Regions from separate parts of the Homo sapiens genome. Here all the other regions are linked to region 3. Evidence: fine-mapped expression QTL. A gene starts in region 3. Each other region holds a variant in brackets. All regions are shown on one strand. Distances are from middle to middle. Region 1 overlaps PAM (peptidylglycine alpha-amidating monooxygenase). Region 2 has its middle 56 kb from the start of SLCO4C1. Region 3 holds the start of SLCO4C1 (solute carrier organic anion transporter family member 4C1).

Region 1 (6,960 bases), 500 kb after region 3:
AATTATATTTCCCCCCATTGTTTTCTTGAATTATACTTGTTCATTATGAAAAATTGTCAAATGCAAAAAAACATAAGCACAAAGAAGACAATATTTTTAAATTACCCATTATTTTACTACCCAGAGATAAGCACTGATATCATTTGTTTGTGTGTCAGCCATTCTGCTGTTCTGTTCATGCATATATGCACATATACAAACAGAGATTCAAAACCATAAGACATAAAATTAAGATAACTGAGCAATATTTTTCACTGAGCATTAGATAGTGAACATTTTCTCCTGTCACTAAATGTTCTTTTACAGCTGCATCTAAGTAGCTGCATTACATTTTATTTTATGCCTCTATCAGTCCTCTATTATTGGGATCTTAGAAATTTGTTTTTGCTGTTATAAATGACACTCTGATGAAAATACTTTTAGATTAATTTTTTCCTATCTCTACTTTCTTAAAATAAATTTCTAGAAGTAAAATTAAGTAGAAGAGTGTGGATATTTTTATGTGTTTGATACGTATATGCCAAATTGTTCTTTAAAAAAGCCATGTGACAGTTTATATTTCTGTGGCAGTCTGTATGAGAACACCCATTTCCCAGCCTGAAATTAGCTTTCTTTTTTTTAACTGCCAATTCAAGAATACGTTATAACTTGGATTGATAACATGAACATTTTTTATATTATTTTTGAACATTTTTATATTATTTTTACTTCTACATGTGGTTACTCTGTTGATGTTTTCCTCTTTTCTTTTATATTTGTAAGACTTATTTATGTGTTAAAGACATTAACCCAGTTGTATTTTATTTCTTTTGCAACTACTTTTTCTCCAGCAGATTCTTCTGTTTTCAACATTTTGCCAAGTGTTACTGAAGAAAAAATAAAATAAATTTTAAAACCAAACCAAAAAACCTCTTTAGATAGCTAACTTTATTTGGGGTTTGTTTCTGAATGCAAGATAGGCATACTGTAGTAAATTCCCTTCTTTCAACCCTGGGTTGAAATCCTGTCAATTAATTAGTTGTATTTAGTCTTACAATAGATAAACCAGGTAGTTTCACATAGCCTGTTTCTAGGGTTTTATCTAGGACATCGTAGGAGTTTCTTGAAGGAAAATATAGCTATAGGGAACATTTTAATTTGGATCTGCTTCATTACTCCAAATATTGTTGAAACAACACCAGATGTCATCTTTACTGGGCAATATACAAACATTGGGAGAAGTTGTACCCATACTAATAAGGGTGAACATAAAAAATGGACTATTGCTCAGATTTGTGTTCTTTACAGCAGAGTGTTTGACAAACTCTTTGATCCTTCTTTTTTTTCACAAGTGGAGATTAGAGCCATTTATTGTTTGGGGGTTGTAATTTATATTTAAACATGGTATGTATGGAATTTAGGAAATTCACCTTAGACATATGAAGCTTAACATTAATGTGTGTGTATATGTGGGTTTGTGTATATGCTGGAGGGAATAAGAAGTGACAAAAGTAATCTAAAATCTTAATGTTGAGAAAAATATTAAAGGTAAATGAAATCTTTATTGTCATAAACTGCTCTCCAATCCAGTACTGATAAACGACGTGGGGAAAGACTATGGAGGTTACTTTCAAAACAAACATTTACCATGTTCCAGGAAATACATGTGTTTGTATAAAAAGCAGGTAGCAATTACATAAACTTTTTTCTTCTTTATCTATTTGCCAAGCAATTGGCTGTTAAGGTCTTTTTGGTTGCCTTTGGGCACTTTGTGTGCACTCTTTTCTGCTTTTAAAAACATAATGCATGGTAACCCATTTGCCACTGACTGGCATTGTGAAGAGTTGGAATGGGGCAGTGTAATAACATGAAAGGCTGATGACAAATTTAGTATTTGTAATTTGGAATCTCTTCTCAGTACATTAGAAGTCTTCCCTATTTAAAGGAACCCTGAAACCATCATTTTATCAAGTGAAGAGTTTGTAACACATGATTACCATTGGTTTTCTTACAAATCAGAATACAGCTTCAGTTTTTGAGGCTCCTACCACAGTTATTATGGTGGTCTCTTACTGGCTGACACTTTGATTATGAGCAGGAAATGTGCTTTCTGCAGCCACACACACACAAAAAGTGACACAAAAGTATTAGGTCATACAGTAGCACGTAAGTTCAGAGTGCCTCCTAGTGGAGTCTAGTGTTGATCAAGTAACATTGGAATAATTTTTTCATTCCTCTAAAAAAATCTCCCCTTTGGCATCATGGTTGGTTATGAATCTTGGGCCTCATAGGAGCACAACATTCTCCACTAAAATAATGTTTTACTCATACTTTTTCCTTTCTTCCTTTAAAAATTAGGTAAGATACCTTCTCTGAATGTGTGAATTTTTTATAGAACACCGAAGATTCTTTGCGTTTAAAATTCCCTCCGTGTAAATTAAGTCCAAAGTGCCTAGGCTTTTCCATTTCTAATGTTTAAGTTAAAGACTTGTAAATTGGGCTGGGTGCAGTGGCTCATGCCTGTAACCCCTGCACTTTGGCAGATTCGGAGGATCCCTTGAGCCCAGGAGTTTGGGAGCAGTCTGGGCAACATAGGGAGACCCCTGTCTCTTCAAAAAAAAATGAAAAAAAAAATAGCTGAGCATGGTGGCACACACCTGTGGTACTAGCTATTTGGGAGGCTGACGTGGGAGGATTGCTTGAGCCTGGGAGGTGGAGGCTGCAGTGAGCCTGATCGCACCACTGCTCTCCAGCCTGGGTGACAGAGTGAGACACTGTCTCAAAACAAAACAACAACCAAAGACACTTGTCAGTGGAAATGTTTGAAATTTTGGAACTATTAGAATGTATTTAACTAAAACAGCTATTGCTTAAATGCAGCATTTTAAGTACTG[G/T]TTTTTTTCAAAGCTCAGACAAGCAGCAATATAGAAATATCCCTGGTCATTTAAGAAACTGAGCCAGGAACAGATTTTAAAACACTTTTGAAAATATTAAATGCTTTAAGTAATTATAGCAAGTATTTTATCCTAAGTTTATATACACAATTAATTTATCAATTTGTAGTGATTATAGTAAGAGAAGATTACTTTTATACTTAGAATAAAAAACTTTTAAAGTCAGCAATATGTGAAATATGTATTGAATATATTATGCTATATTTATCTGAGTATTTTGGTTTAACAAATTAAATGCATATTTTTTTCTTTTTAAAAAATGTATTGACCATATTTATATAACTACTTATCTTTTTATTTGGTAGATTTAAGTAAAATTTATTATTTATTTAACACTTTTGAATTTATATTATACTTGAAGTGGTTTATTTATCCTTGGCCAGCTACCCCCTTGAGACTCTGGCTTTCTATTTTATAGAACTATTTTAATGATAGTTTAAACATGTATACCTGTTACTGGTTATTTTCTGTTCCCCTTATCTTGGGAGTTCAGCATAATGCTGTGCGGATCAGGATAACAAGGTCCCACTGAGGTGAAGGAGGGAGGCTGGGAATGGCTACAGCCTGGAGTGGAGGTGTGATTTCAGTAGGTGGAAGGTTGTCTTCCTGAAAGGAATTGGCAGAAGTAGATTCTTACTGATTCAGATACATTTTCCACCAACTGAAGGAAGGAATTATTAAAGCCAATGGTGAACAAAGCATTTCAAGCATTTTATAGGAAGTGACTAGATGAGGAGATTTTTTTCATTCCTTTTTTAATCAGCAAAAAAGAAATTAGTATTATTGAATTAGCAGATTCTTCCTATTCTATATTAAGAAAGATTTAATTTTTGTACCAAGGAAGGTTAGGTGAAAAAAAAGATTTATTTTTTTTGTAGAAAACTGAAGATAGTTTGATTCAATATGAAACAGTGATATTTATATTTATGCTGATTCCACCACCAAAAAATTATTACATGTACAAATTAAATAGAGATTATCAGCTTAAAAAATATAGAACATTTACATGTGGCTATGAACATTCTGATGCTAATTTTTTTGTTTGATGACTATGTACTTTAAAATCTGGCATTGTCTTTCATGAGATTTACAAGTCCTGTGTCCATTGTGTTGTTTACTTAGGTTATTTGGCTTTCCTCAAACTTAAACAAGCATTAGCTGGTTGCTCCAAAGAGTAACAAAAGAAGATGCAGGAAAATGCTTGGGGCCAGGTGCGGTGGCTCACACCTGTAATCCTAGCACTCTGGCAGGCTGAGGCTCGCAGATCACTTGTGCCCAGGAGTTGGAGACCAGCCTGGTCAACATAGGGAAACCCCATCTCTACAAAAAATAAAAAAATTAGCTGGGAGTGGTGGTGGGCTCTGTTAGTCCCAGCTACTTGTGGGGCTGAGGCAGGAGAATCACTTGAACCCGGGAGGTTGAGGCCATAGTGAGTCATGATGGCACCACTGCACTCCAGCCAGGGTGACAAAGTGAGACAATGTCTCAAAAAAAAAAAAAAAAAAAAAAAGAAGAGAAGAAAAAGAAAAAGAAAAGTGCTTGGAATGGGAGATGAGTTATCCTACTTTGATACTTCTTGTTTCCTCTTTCTACTGATGTCTTTCTCTGCACATCCTTAGGTAAAACTCAAAAATTACTATTGAGATTTTTGCAGGAACCAAATGAGACAGGAAGAAATGTTTTAAACTGCTGTCTAACCTCTAATACTGGTGATGCCGTTTTTGGAGTACCACTAACAGTTTAAAAGTGCTTATCAGAGCAACTCTCGCTGCTTTAATTTGCGTGTACAGATTGCTGTTAGTGTTGTTACTATCTGTTTTGTATCAGGCTAGCTAATTTCCTTGTTTATTAACTAAATGACTTTCTTAATGGCTACCCTTTTGACAAATGAAGAAATCTTAGCTGCTCTGAGAGGGAAAACCAAAATTAAAAATTCACAGTGAAAGGGATGAGGAACATACGTATTTGTGCTGCTGCCGTGTGGTTGGTGTGAGAGAAAAATCTGGTGATTGACCTTGATCCCTAACGGAAAGTCACAAAAATATGTATAATTTGGTCTTCAGCCATAAAATAAATGGCAACTCTCTTCACTTAAAGCAGGGATTTTCATTCCTTTGTTTTGGGTGCGGAAAAGGGAATCTTTTCCAACCTCATTATCAGAGAGTTTAGTGCATTTTTTCCTGAAATGTTTTACAATTTCCATTTTGTCAGACACATTTTGTTGGAGTTCATAGTTTATTAACCATGAGTTATTTTTTTTAGTTTATACTTGAAGATTTAGAGGCCTGTGATATTTTGTTTAAAGGCTTCTAAATGATCCAAACAAATCAGAATATGCACCAGCCTCAGCAAAAACTCCTGTGATCTGTTGACAGATTTTTGGATCTGGGCCCTTGGAAGAGGCACTGGACATTTGTAACAGGAGGTAATTTGAGATCTGTACAAACAAGTTTTTATTTGTTCAAGTTAATGAGGGCAACACCAGTGGAGTTGGACCCTCTGTAGCTAATAGTCTGTGAGCTCCATGGGCCCTTCATGAAGTCAGTCTCCAAAGGTCACCTGCAATCCATGTTAGGAACCAGGTTTGTCGGTCAATAGTCTAGGACTCATAGATCGATCTGTGCCTCTGCAACCAGGGAATCTGACATGGTACCAAAATGTTTATTTATTTCCCAGATGTCATCCCAGAGTTTGGGCAATGAGATTGGATATTTGCAGTTCCACACAGTGGAAATTCACCTTTTAAATAAGGCAAGAAAAATTGATCTTCCTAGTGTCTGGTAGGAGTCTGGTAGGAGTCATCTTTGCTCTTGGTAAGATTATAATTCTCTTACCTGTTTATTGTCATTTTTTTGAGCACCACAGTCAGCCAAATAAGATTAGAGAAAATTGTGAAAGAGAAAGCATTTCTTTCAATTCAGTCCTTTCATTCAACTCTCTTTGTACTTTGCCTCCTTCATTTTCTTTCGTTTGCTCATCACATTCAGAAGCTCACATTCCCTCATCTTACATGAGGGAAGCTATAAATTTCCCTTTTTGAAATAGTCATCTGCTATCTGTGTAACTATGAGCAAGCTGCTTAACCTCTTTGTGCCTTGGTTTTCTTATTTGTAAAATGGTAATAGATATTACCTGTGTCATAAAGTCGTTACATGGATTGAATGCATTAAGGTGTGTCTAACACTTAACTCAGTACCTGGTTGTACAAAGTGCTAAATGACCATTTATCTAATTATTGCTAATGGAACCTAATAATAGAATAATGATAGAGAGCCATATGCTTCATTGCCAAGTTTCAAAATGCTAAACAAAAATGAATTGTGAATTATTTTGAATGTGCAACAGCACAAGGGCTGGTGTTTTGCTTCTTCTGTAAAAAACAGACTTAAAGAATATCTTTAACATACCAAAGGACTGTTGGGTCATTCTTCAGAAGACTACTGGCATAAAAGAGATTGTCCTAAGAATCCCAGGAATAATAATGAGTCTCTTATTTTTATTGGAAAAGGAGACAACAACAGCCATGGAACTGGTTATTTTATGTATCTTCTGTAACTTTCATTTCTCTCATAATAGACATGGTGCTTTTAAAAATCCAATGTGAATGCTCTAAATCATAAGATCATTATTAAATATTATTTTAAAATTAATATGTCATGGTGAGTGTATTTCTGAGCCATCACATTCATAAACATTTAGAATATAACCTCACCCTTTTGCTTAGAGAATACCTTATGCAAAATGATTTTGAAGGACATTTTGTTTCCTAGTATGTGTTTTCAGCAGGTGGCTAATGGCTTTCGACCTGCTGTAGCAGTATACAGAACTGAATGTCAGGCAGAATATTTTTTAAAGCTGCATTTCCATTTTGCATAATGAAGCACAATAATTTTTCTGAGAGTGCCTTGAATATTTTTCCAAAGAATTATTGATAGAGATATGTCATTTTGGTAGGAAAGAGAAGAGAAAATTGGCAATGTTCCAGCATTTAGGTTTTAAGAATATTTAAGTATAATCAGATTGCTAA
Region 2 (6,960 bases), 56 kb after region 3:
TGCTAGCTAACCGAATTCAATAGCATATCAAAAAGATGACACATCATGATCAAGTGGGTTTCATATCAAGAATGCAGGGATGGTTTAACATGCTCAAGTCAATAAATGTGATGCATCACATAAATAGAATTAAAAACAAAAATTATACAATTACCTCAATAGATGCAGAAAATGCATTTGACAAAATCCAGCATCAATTTGTAATAAAAACTCTCAACAAAATTGACATATAAGGGGCAAACCACAAGGTAATAAAAGGTATCTATGACAAATCCACAGCCAACATCATCCTGAACAGGGAAAAGTTGAAAGCATTCCCCCTGAGAACGGGAATAAGACAAAGATGCCCACTTTCACCACTTCTATTCAATCCAGTACTAGAAGTAATAGCCAGAGCAATCAGACAAGATAAAGAAGTAAAGGGCATCCAAATCAGTAAAACGGAAGTCAAACTGTTGCTGTTTGCCAATGATATAATTATATATCTGGAAAACTCTGAAGACTTATCCAAAAAGCTCCTAGATCTGACAGATAAATTCTGTATACTTTCAGGATGCAAAAATCAATATACACAAATCAGTAGAACTGCTATACACCAACAATGATAAAGCTGAGAAACAAAGCAAGAACTCAATCCCTTTTACAACAGCTGCAAAATGAAAAAACACTTAGGAATATACCTAACCAAAGAGGGGAAAGATCTCTATAAAGAAAACTACAAAACACTGCTGAAAGAAATCACAGATGACACAAACAAATGGAAACATATGCTCATGGATGGGTAGAATCAACATTGTGAAAATGACTATATTGCCAAAAGAAATCTACAGATTCAGTGCAATTCCCATCAAAATACCATCATTATTCATCACATAACTAGGAAAAAAAATCCTAAAATTCATATGAAACAAAAAAAAAGAGCCTGAATAGCCAAAGCAAGACTAAGCAAAAAGAACAATTCAGGAGGTATTACATTACCCAACTTCAAACTATACTACAAGGCTATAGTTACCAAATAGCATGGTACTAATATAAAAACAGGCACATAGACCAATGGAACAGAATAGAGAACCCAGAAACAGGGTCAATTACTTACAACCAACTGATCTTCAACAAAGCAAACAAAAATATAAATTGGGGAAAAAACACCCTATTTAACAAATAGTGCTGGGATAATTGGCAAGCCACACATAGACAAATTAAACTGGATGCTCATCTTTCACCTTATACAAAAATCAACTCAAGATGGATAAAAAACTTAAATCTAAGATCTGAAGCCATAAAAATTCCAGAGATAACATTGGAAAAACTGATGTTGGCTTAGGCAAAGACTTCATGACCAAGAACACAAAAGCAAATGCAACAAATAAATAAATAAATAGATGGGACCTAATTAAACTAAACAGTTTCTGCACAGCAAAAGAAATAAATAGCAGAGTAAACAGACAACTCAAAGAGTGAGAGAAAACATTCACAAATTATGCATCTGACAAGAGACTAATTTCCAAATCTACAAGGAACTCCAATCAGCAAGAAAAAAGAAATAATACCATCATAAAGTGGTCTGAGGACATGAATAGACAATTCTCAAAAGAAGACATAAAATAGCCAACAAACATATGAAAAGAATTCAACATTATTAATTATCAGGGAAATGCAAATTAAAGCTACAGTGAGATACCACCTCACTCCTGCAAGAATGACCATAATCAAAAAGTAAAAAAATAACAGATATTGTCATGGATTTGGTTAAAAGGGAACACTTTTACACTGCTGGTGAGAATGTAACCTAGCACCACCCCTGTGGAAAACAGAAAGGAGATTCCTTAAAGAACTAAAAGTAGAACTACCATTTGATCCAGTAGTCTCACTATTGGGTATCCACCCAAAGGAAAAGAAGTCATTATATTAAAAAGATATTTGCACACGCAAGTTTATAGCACAATTCGCAATTGCGAAAATACAGAATGAGCCTAAATTCCTGTCAACCAACATGTGGATAAAGAAAATGTGCTACAAATACACCATGGAATACTACTCAGCCATAAAAAGAAATGAAATAATGGCATTTGCAGCAACCTGGAGGGAGTTGGAGACCATTATTCTAAGTGAAGTAACTCAGGATTGGAAACCAAATATCATATATTCTAACTTGTAAGTGGGAGCTAAGCTATGAGGATGCAAAAGCATAAGAATGATACAATGGGGTAGGTGTTCCAAGACAGCTGAATAGAAAGAGCTCCAGTCTGCAGCTCCCAGCGTGATCAATGCAGAAGACAGGTGATTTCTGCATTTCCAACTGAGGTACCTGGTTCATCTCATTGGGACTGGTTGGACAGTGGGTGCAGCCCATGGAAGGTGAGCTGAAGCAGGGCGGAGCATCACCTCACCTGGGAAGTACAAGGGGTCCGGGGATTTCCCCTTCCTAGCCAAGGGAAGCCATGACAGACTGTACCTGGAAAAATGGGACATTCCCACCTAAATACTGCACTTTTCCAATGGTCTTAGCAAACGGGAGACCAGGAGATTCTCTCCCGCACCTGGCTAGGTGGGTCCCATGCCCACAGAGCCTTGCTCTCTGCTAGCACACAGTCTGAGATGGACCTGCCAGGTAGCAGCCTGGCAGGGGAAGGGGCATCCACCATTGCTGAGGCTTGAGTAGGCAAACAACACAGCTTAGAAGTTTGAACTGGGAGAAGCCCACCACAGCTCAGCAAGGCCTACTGCCTCTATTGACTCCACCTCTGAGGGCAGGGCATAGGTGAACGAAAGGCAACAGAAACTTCTACAGACTTAAACTTCCCTGTCTGACAGCTCTGAAGAAGCAGTGGTTCTCCCAGCATGCTGTTTGAGCTCTGAGAATGGACAGACTGCCTCCTCAAGTGGATCTCTGACCCCCGTGTTGCCTAACTGAGAGACATCTCTCAGTAGGGGCTGACTGACACCTCATACAGGTGGGTGCCCCTCTGGGATGAAGCTTCCAGAGGAAGGATCAGGCAGGAATATTTGCTGTTCTGCAGCCTCTGCTGGTGATACCCAGGCAGACAGAGTCTGGAGTGGACCTCCAGCAAACTCCAACAGACATGCAGCTGAGGGACCTGACTGTTAGAAGGAAAACTAACAAACAGAAAGGAATAGCATCAACATCAACAAAAAGGACATCCACACCAAAACCCCATCTGTAGGTCACCAACATCAAAGACCAAAAGCAGATAAAACCACAAAGATGGGGAGAAACCAGAGAAGAAA[AG/A]CTGAAAATTCTAAAAACTAGAGCGTTTCTTCTCCTCCAAAGGATCACAGCTCATTGCCAGCAACAGAACAAAGCTGGATGAAAAATGACCTGACAATTTGACAGAAGTAGGCTTCAGAAGGTTGGTAATAACAAAGTTCTCCGAGCTAAAGGAAGATGTTCGAACCCATTGCAAGGAAGGTAAAAACCTTGAAAAAAAGATTAGATGAATGGCTAACTAGAATAAACAGTGTAGAGATGACCTTAAATGACCTGATGGAAATGAAAACCATGGCACGAGAACTATGTCATGCATGCACAAGCTTCAGTAGCCAATTTGATCAAGTGGAAGAAAGGATATCAATGATTGAAGATCAAATTAGTGAAATAAAGCAAGAGGAGAAGTTTAGAGAAAAAAGAGTAAAAAGAAACAAACAAAGCCTCCAAGAAATATGGGAGTACAGGAAAAGACCAAATCTACGTTTGATTGGTGTACCTGAAAGTGACAGGGAGAATTGAACCAAATTGGAAAACACTCTTCAGGATATTATCCAGGAGAACTTCCCCAACCTAGCAAGGCAGGCCAACATTCAAATTCAGGAAAGACAGAGAACACCACAAAGATACTCCTCGAGAAGAGCAACCCCAAGACACATAATTGTCAGATTCACCAAGGTTGAAATGAGGGAAAAAATGTTAAGGGCAGACAGAGAGAAAGTCGGGTTACCCACAAAGGGAAGCCCATTAAACTAACAGCAGATCTCCTGGCAGAAACTCTACAAGCCAGAAGACAGTGGGAGCCAATATTCAACATTCTTAAAGAAAAGAATTTTCAACCCAGAATTTTATATCCAGCCAAACTAAGCTTCCTAAGTGAAGGAGAAATAAAATCCTTTACAGATGAGAAAATGCTGAGAGATTTTGTAATCACCATGCCTCCCTTACAAGAGCTCCTGAAGGAAGAATTAAACATGGAAAGGAATAACCAGTACCAGCCACTGCAAAAACATGCCAGATTGTAAAGACCATCGATACTAGGAAGAAACTGCATCAACTAACGAGCAAAATAATCAGCTAACATCATAATGTCAGGATGAAATTCACATATAACAATATTAACTTTAAATGTAAATGGCCTAAATGCCCCAATTAAAAGACACAGACTGGCAAATTGGATAAAGAGTCAAGAGCCATCCGTATGCTGTATTTAGGAGACCCATCTCACTGCAGAGACACACATAGGCTCAAAATAAAGGGATGGAGGAAGGTTTACCAAGCAAATGGAAAGCCCAGAAAAAAAAAAGCAGGGGTTGCAATCCTAGTCTCTGATAAAACAGACTTTAAACCAACAAAGATCAAAAGAGACAAAGAAGGCCATCACATAATGGTAAAGGGATCAATTCAATAAGAAGAGCTAACTATCCTAAATATATATGCACCCAATACAGGAGCATCTAGATTCATAATGCAAGTTCTTAGAGACCTAAAAAGAGACTTAGACTCCCACACAATAATAAGGGGAGACTTTAACACTCCACTCTCAGTATTAGACAGATCAATGAGACAGAAGGTTAACAAGGATATCCAGCACAGGAACTCAGCTCTGCACCTAATAGACATCTATAGAACTCTCCACCCCAAATCAACAGAATATACATTCTTCTCAGCACCACATCACACTTATTCTAAAAATGACCACATAGTTAGAAGTAAAACACTGCTCAGCAAATGTAAAAGAACAGAAATCACAACAACTGTCTCTCAGACCACAGTGCAATACAATTAGAATGCAGGATTAAGAAACTCGCTCAAAACTGCACAACTACATGGAAACTGAACAACCTGCTCCTGAATGACTACTGGGTACATAACGAAATGAAGGCAGAAATAACAATGTTCTTTGAAACCAATGAGAACAAAGACACAACGTACCATAATCTCCGGGACACATTTAAAGCAGTGTTTAGAGGGAAATTTATAGCACTAAATGCCCACAAGAGAAAGCAGGAAAGATCTAAAATTCACACCCTAACATCACAATTAAAAGAACTGGAGAAGCAAGAGCAAACACATTCAAAAGCTAGCAGAAGGCAAGAAATAACTAAGATCAGAGCAGAACTGAAGGAGATAGAGACACAAAAAACCCTTCAAAAAATCAATGAATCCAGGAGCTGGTTTTTTGAAAAGATCAACAAAATTGATAGACCGCTAGCAAGACTAATAAAGAAGAAAATAGAGAAGAATCAAATAGACATAATAAAAAATGATAAAGGGGATATCACCACCGATCCCACAGAAATACAAACTACCATCAGAGAATTCTATAAACACTTCTATGCAAATAGACTGAAAAATCTAGAAGAAATGGATGAATTCCTGGAAACATACACCCTCCCAAGACTAAACCAGGAAGAAGTTGAATCTCTGAATAGACCAATAACAGGCTCTGAAATTGAGGCCATAATCAATAGCCTACCAACCAAAAAAAGTCCAGGACCAGACGGATTCACTGCTGAAATCTACCAGAGGTACAAAGAGGAGCTGGTACCGTCCCTTCTGGAACTATTACAATCAATAGAAAAAGAGAGAATCCTCCCTAACACATTTTAGGAGGCCAGCATCACCCTGATACCAAAGCCTGGTAGAGACAAGACAAAAAAAGAGATAATTTTAGACTAATATCCCTGATGAACACTGATGCGGAAATCTTCAATAAAGTACTGACAAACCAAATCCAGCAGCACATCAAAAAGCTTATCCACCATGATCAAGTGGGCTTCATCCCTGGGATGCAAGGCTGGTTCAACATATGCAAATCAATAAACATAATCCATCGAATAAACAGAACCAATGACAAAAACCACATGATTATCTCAATAGATGAAGAAAAGGCCTTTGACAAAATTCAACAGCCCTTCATGCTAGAAATGCTCAATAAACTAGGTATTTATGGAATGTATATCAAAATAATAAGAACTATTTATGACAAATCCACAGCCAATATCATACTGAATGTGCAAAAACTGGAAGCATTCCCTTTGAAAACTGGCACAAGACAGGGATGCCCTCTCTCACCACTCCTATTCAACATAGTGTTGGAAGTTCTGGCCAGGGCAATCAGGCAAGAGAAAGAAATAAAGGGTATTCGATTAAGAAAAGAGGTATTCAAAATGTTCCTGTTTGCAGATGACATGATTGTATATTTAGAAAACCCCATCATCTCAGCCCCAAATCTCCTTAAGCTGATAAGCAACTTCAGCAAAGTCTCAGGATACAAAATCAATGTGCAAAAATCACAAGCATTCCTATACACCAATAACAGACAAACAGAGAGCCAAATCATGAGTGAACTCCCATTCACAATTGCTACAAAGAGAATAAAATACCTAGGAATCCAACTTACAAGGGATGTGAAGGACCTCTTCAAGGAGAACTACAAACCACTGCTCAATGAAATAAAGGAGGACACAAACAAATGGAAGAACATTCCATGCTCGTGGATAGGAAGAATTAATATTGTGAAAATGGCCATACTGCCCAAGGTAATTTATAGATTCAATGCCATTCCCATCAAGCTACCAATGACTTTCTTCACAGAATTGGAAAAAACTACTTTAAAGTTCATATGGAACCAAAAAAGAGCCCTCAATGCCAAGACAATCCTAAGCCAAAAGAACAAAGCTGGAGGCATCATGCTACCTGACTTCAAATTACCCTACAAGGCTACATGG
Region 3 (6,960 bases):
TTTTGATTAAGACCGTAGCTGAAAATATATTTCAAAAAAAATAAATTCAACAAATTTAATAAGTTTCAAAACTCATGACATATTTTTTACTTTTATACCCATTTCATAAGACTATAAGCCAATTTACAATTCTTAGGATTTCAAAATAAAGTACCTAAAGTATCTTAGGATGACATTTTTATACGTTATCTAATAATACAAAATTTTCCGCATCCAATAAAATCAACTTCCCTATCACTTGCCATACTGATTAAAAATTAGTTAATAGAAAGAATTGTCTTTATGGTAAAACTTCTCTTTGAAAAAAAAATTTGTAAACTCCTCAGGAAGGATAGCACATTAATCCAATGACTCTTAAAGTGAATTCTATGCTATACAAGTTCCAAGAACACTACTTAAAAAAACAAAAACAAAAAAATCAGGAAACGCTCCATACTACATCTCTCTGTTGTAAATGAATGACAATAGGAAGCACATTAGAAAATTAAGTACTTAGAGAATCCCTGTTTGTCTTTGAGAAATGCTGGGTTAAATAAACTCATTCGAGAAATTTTGTTTTTCTTTCCAATTAAATGTATATTTAAATATACCATGGAAATGATCTTAAGGATCATGTTTGAGAAACATGGCAATAAAGTTTTCAGGCATTCAAACTTAAACTGAAACGTAAACTAGTAATTTATTGGGTCACACTTTTTATTATTATACTTTTTTTTGAGACCTTGCCTCGCTCTGTCACCAGGCTGGAGTGCAGTGGCGCCATCTCGGCTCACTGCAACCTCCACCTCCCGGGTTCCAGCCATTCTCGTGCCTCAGCCTCCTGAATAGCTGGGACTACAGGCGTGTGCCACCGCACCCGGCTAATTTTTGTGGTGTTTTGTTTTGTTTTGAGACAGAGTTTCCCTCTGTTGCCTAGGCCGGAGTGCAATGACACGATCTCGGTCCACTTCAAACTCCGCCTCCTGGGTTCAAGTGTTTTTCCCACCTCAGCCCTCCAAGTAGCTGGGATTGCAGGCATGCGCCACAATGCCCAACTAGTTTTTGTATTTTTGGTAGAGACGGGGTTTCACCGTGTTGGCCAGGCTGGTCTCGAACTCCTGACCTCAGTTGATCTGCCTGCCTCAGCCTCCCAAAGTGCTGCAATTACAGGCGTGAGCCACGGCGCCCGGCCATAATTTTTTGTATTTTTAGTAGAGACGGGTTTCACCATGTTGGCCAGGCTGGTATCCAAGTTCTGACCTCAACTGATCCGCCCGCCTCGGCCTCCCAAAGTGCTGGGATTACAGGCGTGAGCCACCATGCCCAGCCTATTGGGTCACTATTATCTCAGATTAAGCTTCTTAAATTGGGGACCTCTGGGTAGATGCTGCTCCAGACTAAACCTGACAAATTTTCTAGGAGTGACAATTACATTTGATAACAATTTTAGGCAATATTTTATATTAAATATAAAATGTTATATTTTGGAATAATATAGAAATTTCAGAGGAATTTTAAGATAATACACAAGATAAGACATTTTTTACTTGTGTCCAACTTTTTTATCTTCGCATTCCTTTGACACTGAGATGCTTCACAATTACCAATTTTGTAAAACTATGATCAAGACATTAATGGAGGGGAACTTTGGTAGGGACAAGAAAAGTGGACAGGGAAATAATTCTTCAACACAAATCTACCTTCAGTAGAAGAGCTGCAGCGGACTTGCAATCAATAAATGGTTACTTAGCATCTAATGCGCAAAGCAAGGGGCCCTGGGTTCCTTGAAGAGGAAGAATAAGAACAAAAAGTATACTTAGGCTTTGACTTAGTTTTCTATTAACTTAAAAAATGAGCTGTTTCCAACCCTCTAAAATCTATATTTCTAAGGTTGTATTTCTTCCAATTAATCCTTGACTGATTATACAGAAAATATTCTCGGACTATGACTCAAGTGACCAAAAAATATCTACATTCCAATTCAGCTAAGCTTCGGCATGTCCTTCTTGACTCCTCTCCACCTCTTCTCCACCCTTCCTCAAAGTCAACTCAGGTTAACTTCCTATTTTCCTTCAACCTCTGTATTGAACACACCAGAAGCAGCTTTAACCTTCCCTGTGCCTTCTTTCAAGGGAGCTGTTCTCCCTCCAGGATATCACTCCTCCAAACTGAGCTTAGATTGCAAGCCCCTGAGGGTATAAATCTGAACTGAATCTGTAACTCCCAAGAGAACCTAAAAGAGATCCTAGAACAAAACAGATGCTGGATAACTAATGTAACACAATGAAGATTAAGGCTCAACAACGTCGGGAGCCTTTGCTAATTTACTCACTGGGCTCCTCTGGTGACCACATACTCTCAAACTAAATACACTCACAAAACATGAATGTCTGTATCTAATTTATACGATAGATTTTTCATAGCTTTCTTCCTTGTAAGGCATCCCACTCCCACCTGCAAACGTATTACTCCTTCCCCTGAGGCAATGAAACAAATGTAAAAGTAAAATACCTTTAAAGAGTGCCTAGGTAAATTTTTGTCTTTATAATGTAAAATAAACTCCCCAGGGTATACCTTTCCCAAAGGAAGGTTCTTGTAATCTTCCCTGTAAGTCTTGAATCCGCTAAACTGAGGTAAAACACAAAAGAGAAAAAGGCTTGTATTGCAAGTTTGAACTGTAGTGATAAAGGAGAAGCTGAACTTTGGAAGGCTGGCTGGGGGCCGGTAGGTTGACCTTGGTGAGAGCGCAAGCAAGTTCCAAACCCGGGGCCACCTTGCAGGGCGCGTCCACCGTCCCACGGACCCCGCGCACCTGCCCTCTCCCCCGGCTGGCTCGCCGTGCCCACCTCGCTCTCCACTGGCCCGAGCCTCAAGCGGGCGCTGGACTTTACCTTGCGTGACGGCCAAGAGGCAGTAGTGAAGCAGAAAGCCTCCAGGTGTGTTGCAGCGCTGGAGACATTGAGGATGGAAGTTCCTCCAGCCGTAAGACCCCTCCTCAAACTCGGACAGCGACAGTGACCGGAGCTTCTCTTCGGAGACATTGGGAGGGGCTGAAGGCAGAGATGGCTCTGGTGACTTCTGGGGCTCCTGGGGCTTCTGAAGCTCCTGTGGCTGAGAATTCTCTCTTTGGGGGTCAGAGGACAAGGCAGAGACTTCGATTTGGGAGGGCGACGCAGACAAGCGGCGCAGGATGTCTGGGCTGGAGGGGACAAAAGCCAAGTTCTCAATACCTTTGGCGCTCTTCATGTCTGGATGGGTTCTCCCGACTCCGGTGCTTCAGAGCAGCAGAGCCAGGTCCCTCTCTGGCTCCTCCCACAGGCAGGTGACAGCGCCCCCGTGCGGGAAGCTTCCCGCCTCCTGGCCCTCCAGCCTCCAGCGCACTCTCCGCCACCGCCTGAACCTTCCTACTCCAGCTCGCAGCTGTCTGGAGCGCAGAGCGCTGAGCGGGGGCGTTAGCGCCCCAGCCTGTGGCTTTGGCGCTCAGCTGTGCCTCACCCGTCGCCTCAAGGACCAACCGGAAGGCGCGGCGTGGGCGTGCCACCCGGCGGCGGCCGAGTAGAGGGGGCGAGAGTTCTCACCCCACAGCCTTCGACCGGAGTCCGCCTCCGCCCAAGCCCCTGCGGTTCTGACCTGAGCCTTCAGCCCGCAGCGCGCCTCCCTTGAGCCCAAGCACTGGGAACACACAGAGACTGTGGGAGTCTCTGGCCATAAGCTCCCCTTGGGTGCTGACATGAAACCTGTAAACAGTTGCATCAGGAGATTGTTCAGGAAACTATCTTGCGTTTTCTTCCTTTGCTGCTTACCAAAGCAGTCTAGGCTTGGACTCCAAGAATCAAGACGTCAGAGGTATACTTTGGTTCATGAGCATCTTGATAAGACTCTTGCCTGTCATCCTGTTACTGGTAGAAGGTGTCCAGGTTCTTGGCATCTTGAAGAAAGAATTGAAGAAAACGCACAAACAAAGCAAGGAAGGAATGAAGGGGTTTATTGAAAATGAAAGTACACTCCACAGTGTGGGAACGGGCGAGCATAGGGGCTCAAAGGCCCGGTTACAGAATTTTGGGGAGTTTAAATACCCCCTAGAGGATTCCATTGGTTACTTTGGGTATGCCCTATGTAAAGGGAGAAGATGAAGTAAAGTTACAAAGTCATTTATGGCCTACGCCCTATGGAGAGGATATTTCCTGTTACAGCTGAAGTGTGAATAGGCCTTATGTTTCCTGCCTCCAGACCCTATTTTCCTGCCTCAGTCCTCCTTAGAAAAAGAAATCCACCCCACCCCACCCCCATCACCACCAGGATGAACATCACAGCATAACCACTGCTTTGCTTTTCCTTCTCCGAAACTGAAGGACCAGAAATTGTCTCTCTGCTGTATATTGCATATGTAAGATATACAGTGATGACAATCATGTAAATAATTTCTACCGGGCCAGGCGCGGTGGCTCACGCCTGTAATCCTAGCACTTTGGGAGGCTGAGGCGGGTGGATTACCTGAGGTCAGGAGTTCAAGATTAGCCTGGCCAACATGGTGAAACACTGTCTTTACTAAAAATACAAAAATTAGCCAGGTGTGGTGGTGCAGGCCTGTAATCCCAGCTACTTGGGAGGCTGAGGCAGGAGAATCATTTGAACTCGGAAGGTGGAGGGTACAGTGAACCGAGATTGTGCCACTTCAATCCAGTCTGGGTGAAAGAGTGAAACTCTGTCTCTTAATAATAATAATAATAATAATAATACATGTCTAACTGTGGAATAAATAAGAAAAACACTTCGAAGAGCTTAACACCATTGTGTCATGGTAGGTACAATTTAGTCATTCATTCTTTCACTTAACACAGACACAAAAAATTCTTGTGTCCTAGGTGCCAAACATTGTTCTAAGTTCTGGGGGTACACAAGTGAACAAAGACTGGCAAATACCCCTACCCTTATGGTGCTTATGTTTTAATAGGAAACAGACAGTAATAATACATAGTACATGGCACATAATATGATAAATACTATTTTGTGAAACTTTTGTTTCAATTATATATGCTGTGTTTACTGGGTTGAGAGACAGATATAAAATATGTATCTTACTTTGGACAGAGGTACATTCTGTTACCTGTTTCCTCACAATCGAGAAAACTCTAGACTGGCCAGCCGGGCGCAGAGGTGCAGGCCTGTAATCCCAGTACTTTGGGAGGCCAAGGTGGGTGCCTTGAGTCCAGGAGTTTGAGACCAGCCTGGGCAACACGACAAAACCCTGTCTCTACCAAAAATGCAAAACTTAGCCTGGCATGGTGGTGCACGCCTGTAGTTCCAGATACTTGGGAGGCTGAGGTGGGAGGGTCGCTTACAACCTGGGAGGGTGAGGTTGCAATGAGTACTCCAGCTGTGCCATAGAGCCAGACCTTGTCTCAAAAAAATAAGAATTAAAAATAAAAATAAATTCTAGATTGGCCTAAAACATGGGGAAAGAGTAGAAGTAGGAGCTAACATTTAAAATGTCTGCTATATGCCCCATTATTAAAATCTTTACAAAAGCAGCTGCACTGTTATATATAGTTTACATATTGAGGAAACCATATCCCATAAAGAATTAGTAACTGTCCCAAAGTCACATAGCTAATAAGTGAACTGCCACTTAAGGATCTGAACTCGGCTCTCTTAGCCAGAAGTCTTCCCTAAACTTTGCATTTTCTGTCTTTTAATAACTACAGTGTATCTCCATCAGGTTAAATTATTGCATAGCAATTTTAAGAGATCAAAATTCAAAATTCTGTGATATTCGTGAGGCTTAGAAGATTAATGCTGCTCTGAAAACCTAGATTTTGGAGGTATTCAAATTAAGCATGGTATGTAATCTTCCTGGGCTTGCTTTCTACAAAAATGGACTCAAAGTAGGTAACTATTTTGATCACCATTTTATCTATGGAATACGAAGTAATTTACACAACCAGAAAATTTTGTTTTGATGGGATGTGATTACATACAATCATGGCTTAAGACTATTTTGCAGCTGTGACTTAATAAATCCATGCTATACTATCAAAATCAGAGTAGCATAATCATCGTGCACTTAAATTCATACTAAGGAGAAATCTCCACTCTCACAGTGTTAGAGAGAGAATTTTGGTTAAAGATTAGCAAAATTACTATTGCTTCATCTTAAATACATCTTGCTCTTACTGAAAGTTTCAATTTCCTGTTCCCTTACATTCTTTATGCTGCAGTGATGGAAGGGGCTTCGGTTTGCAACAAAAACCAAAAAACAAAAATAGGAAAGAAAAATTGTTAGTTTTCATCCCTGATAATTCTATGGAAAAACGTCCATTTTAAAATTAATTGTTTGGTCAATCTAGGTTAAATCTGCCTCTAATGAACACAGTCAAAATATACCATCTTAAATTTCAGAAGGTAATTGATACTTTACTCTTCTTATAGTACATTTTATTTGCTATGTTTTTAAAGGGTGGAGAATGGGAGAAAGAGAATGTCCAAAATTTATGGTAAGGCTCCCACACTGTAAACAGAAGCAGTCCCTGCCTCTGGATATCATTCTCTGGGATGTGCAGTAGGTCTTTCCTTTCAGGAATTGGATGAAACAAGGTGAAGTGGCTTAATGACAGAAGTTATCAAGATTGTCCTACTAACTCCCCTTGCTCTGATTCCATGCTTAAGAGCGATCTTATGATTTGGGCCTTCCATGTAGATATGTATACTGGATGAAAATGTATTGATATGCCTATCTTGAGTACTTTATCATTTTCCCCTCTGTGTTGTTAATGCTTTATTAGTTCCCTTCTGGTTTTAGACTAAATGTGAACCCTTTAGCAGTATAACACTATGAGCTCATAGAATATTAAAATTAGAGGGATCTTGACAGTGGCTGATTACAAACATGGTCAAATGTGAATATCGTTGAGGTTAATTACAAATCCTAGTATTAACGGTTTATTAATATCACAGCATCTTATATTAACTGAATAAAAGCAA

What was found. PIP is the estimated chance that this variant, and not a neighbour inherited with it, causes the effect.
Region 1: its variant is the best candidate, but not a certain one, in a credible set for the expression of SLCO4C1 in whole blood (INTERVAL, PIP 0.66).
Region 2: its variant is the best candidate, but not a certain one, in a credible set for the expression of SLCO4C1 in whole blood (GTEx, PIP 0.52).

The regions. Positions count from the first base shown.
Region 1 is chr5:102,790,770-102,797,729 of GRCh38, forward strand. The region is part of intron 1 of PAM (peptidylglycine alpha-amidating monooxygenase); the gene reads left to right. Among named protein-coding and RNA genes, the nearest start is that of PAM, 39 kb to the left of the region's middle. The variant G/T (reference allele first, on the strand shown) is at 2,874.
Region 2 is chr5:102,349,108-102,356,067 of GRCh38, forward strand. No RefSeq gene overlaps it. Among named protein-coding and RNA genes, the nearest start is that of SLCO4C1, 56 kb to the left of the region's middle. The variant AG/A (reference allele first, on the strand shown) is at 3,250.
Region 3 is chr5:102,293,038-102,299,997 of GRCh38, forward strand. It overlaps SLCO4C1 (solute carrier organic anion transporter family member 4C1), which reads right to left and starts at 3,247. Exons shown (of 13, transcript NM_180991.5): 1 at 2,871-3,247. The coding sequence starts at 3,225. RefSeq lists an enhancer at 3,013-3,212.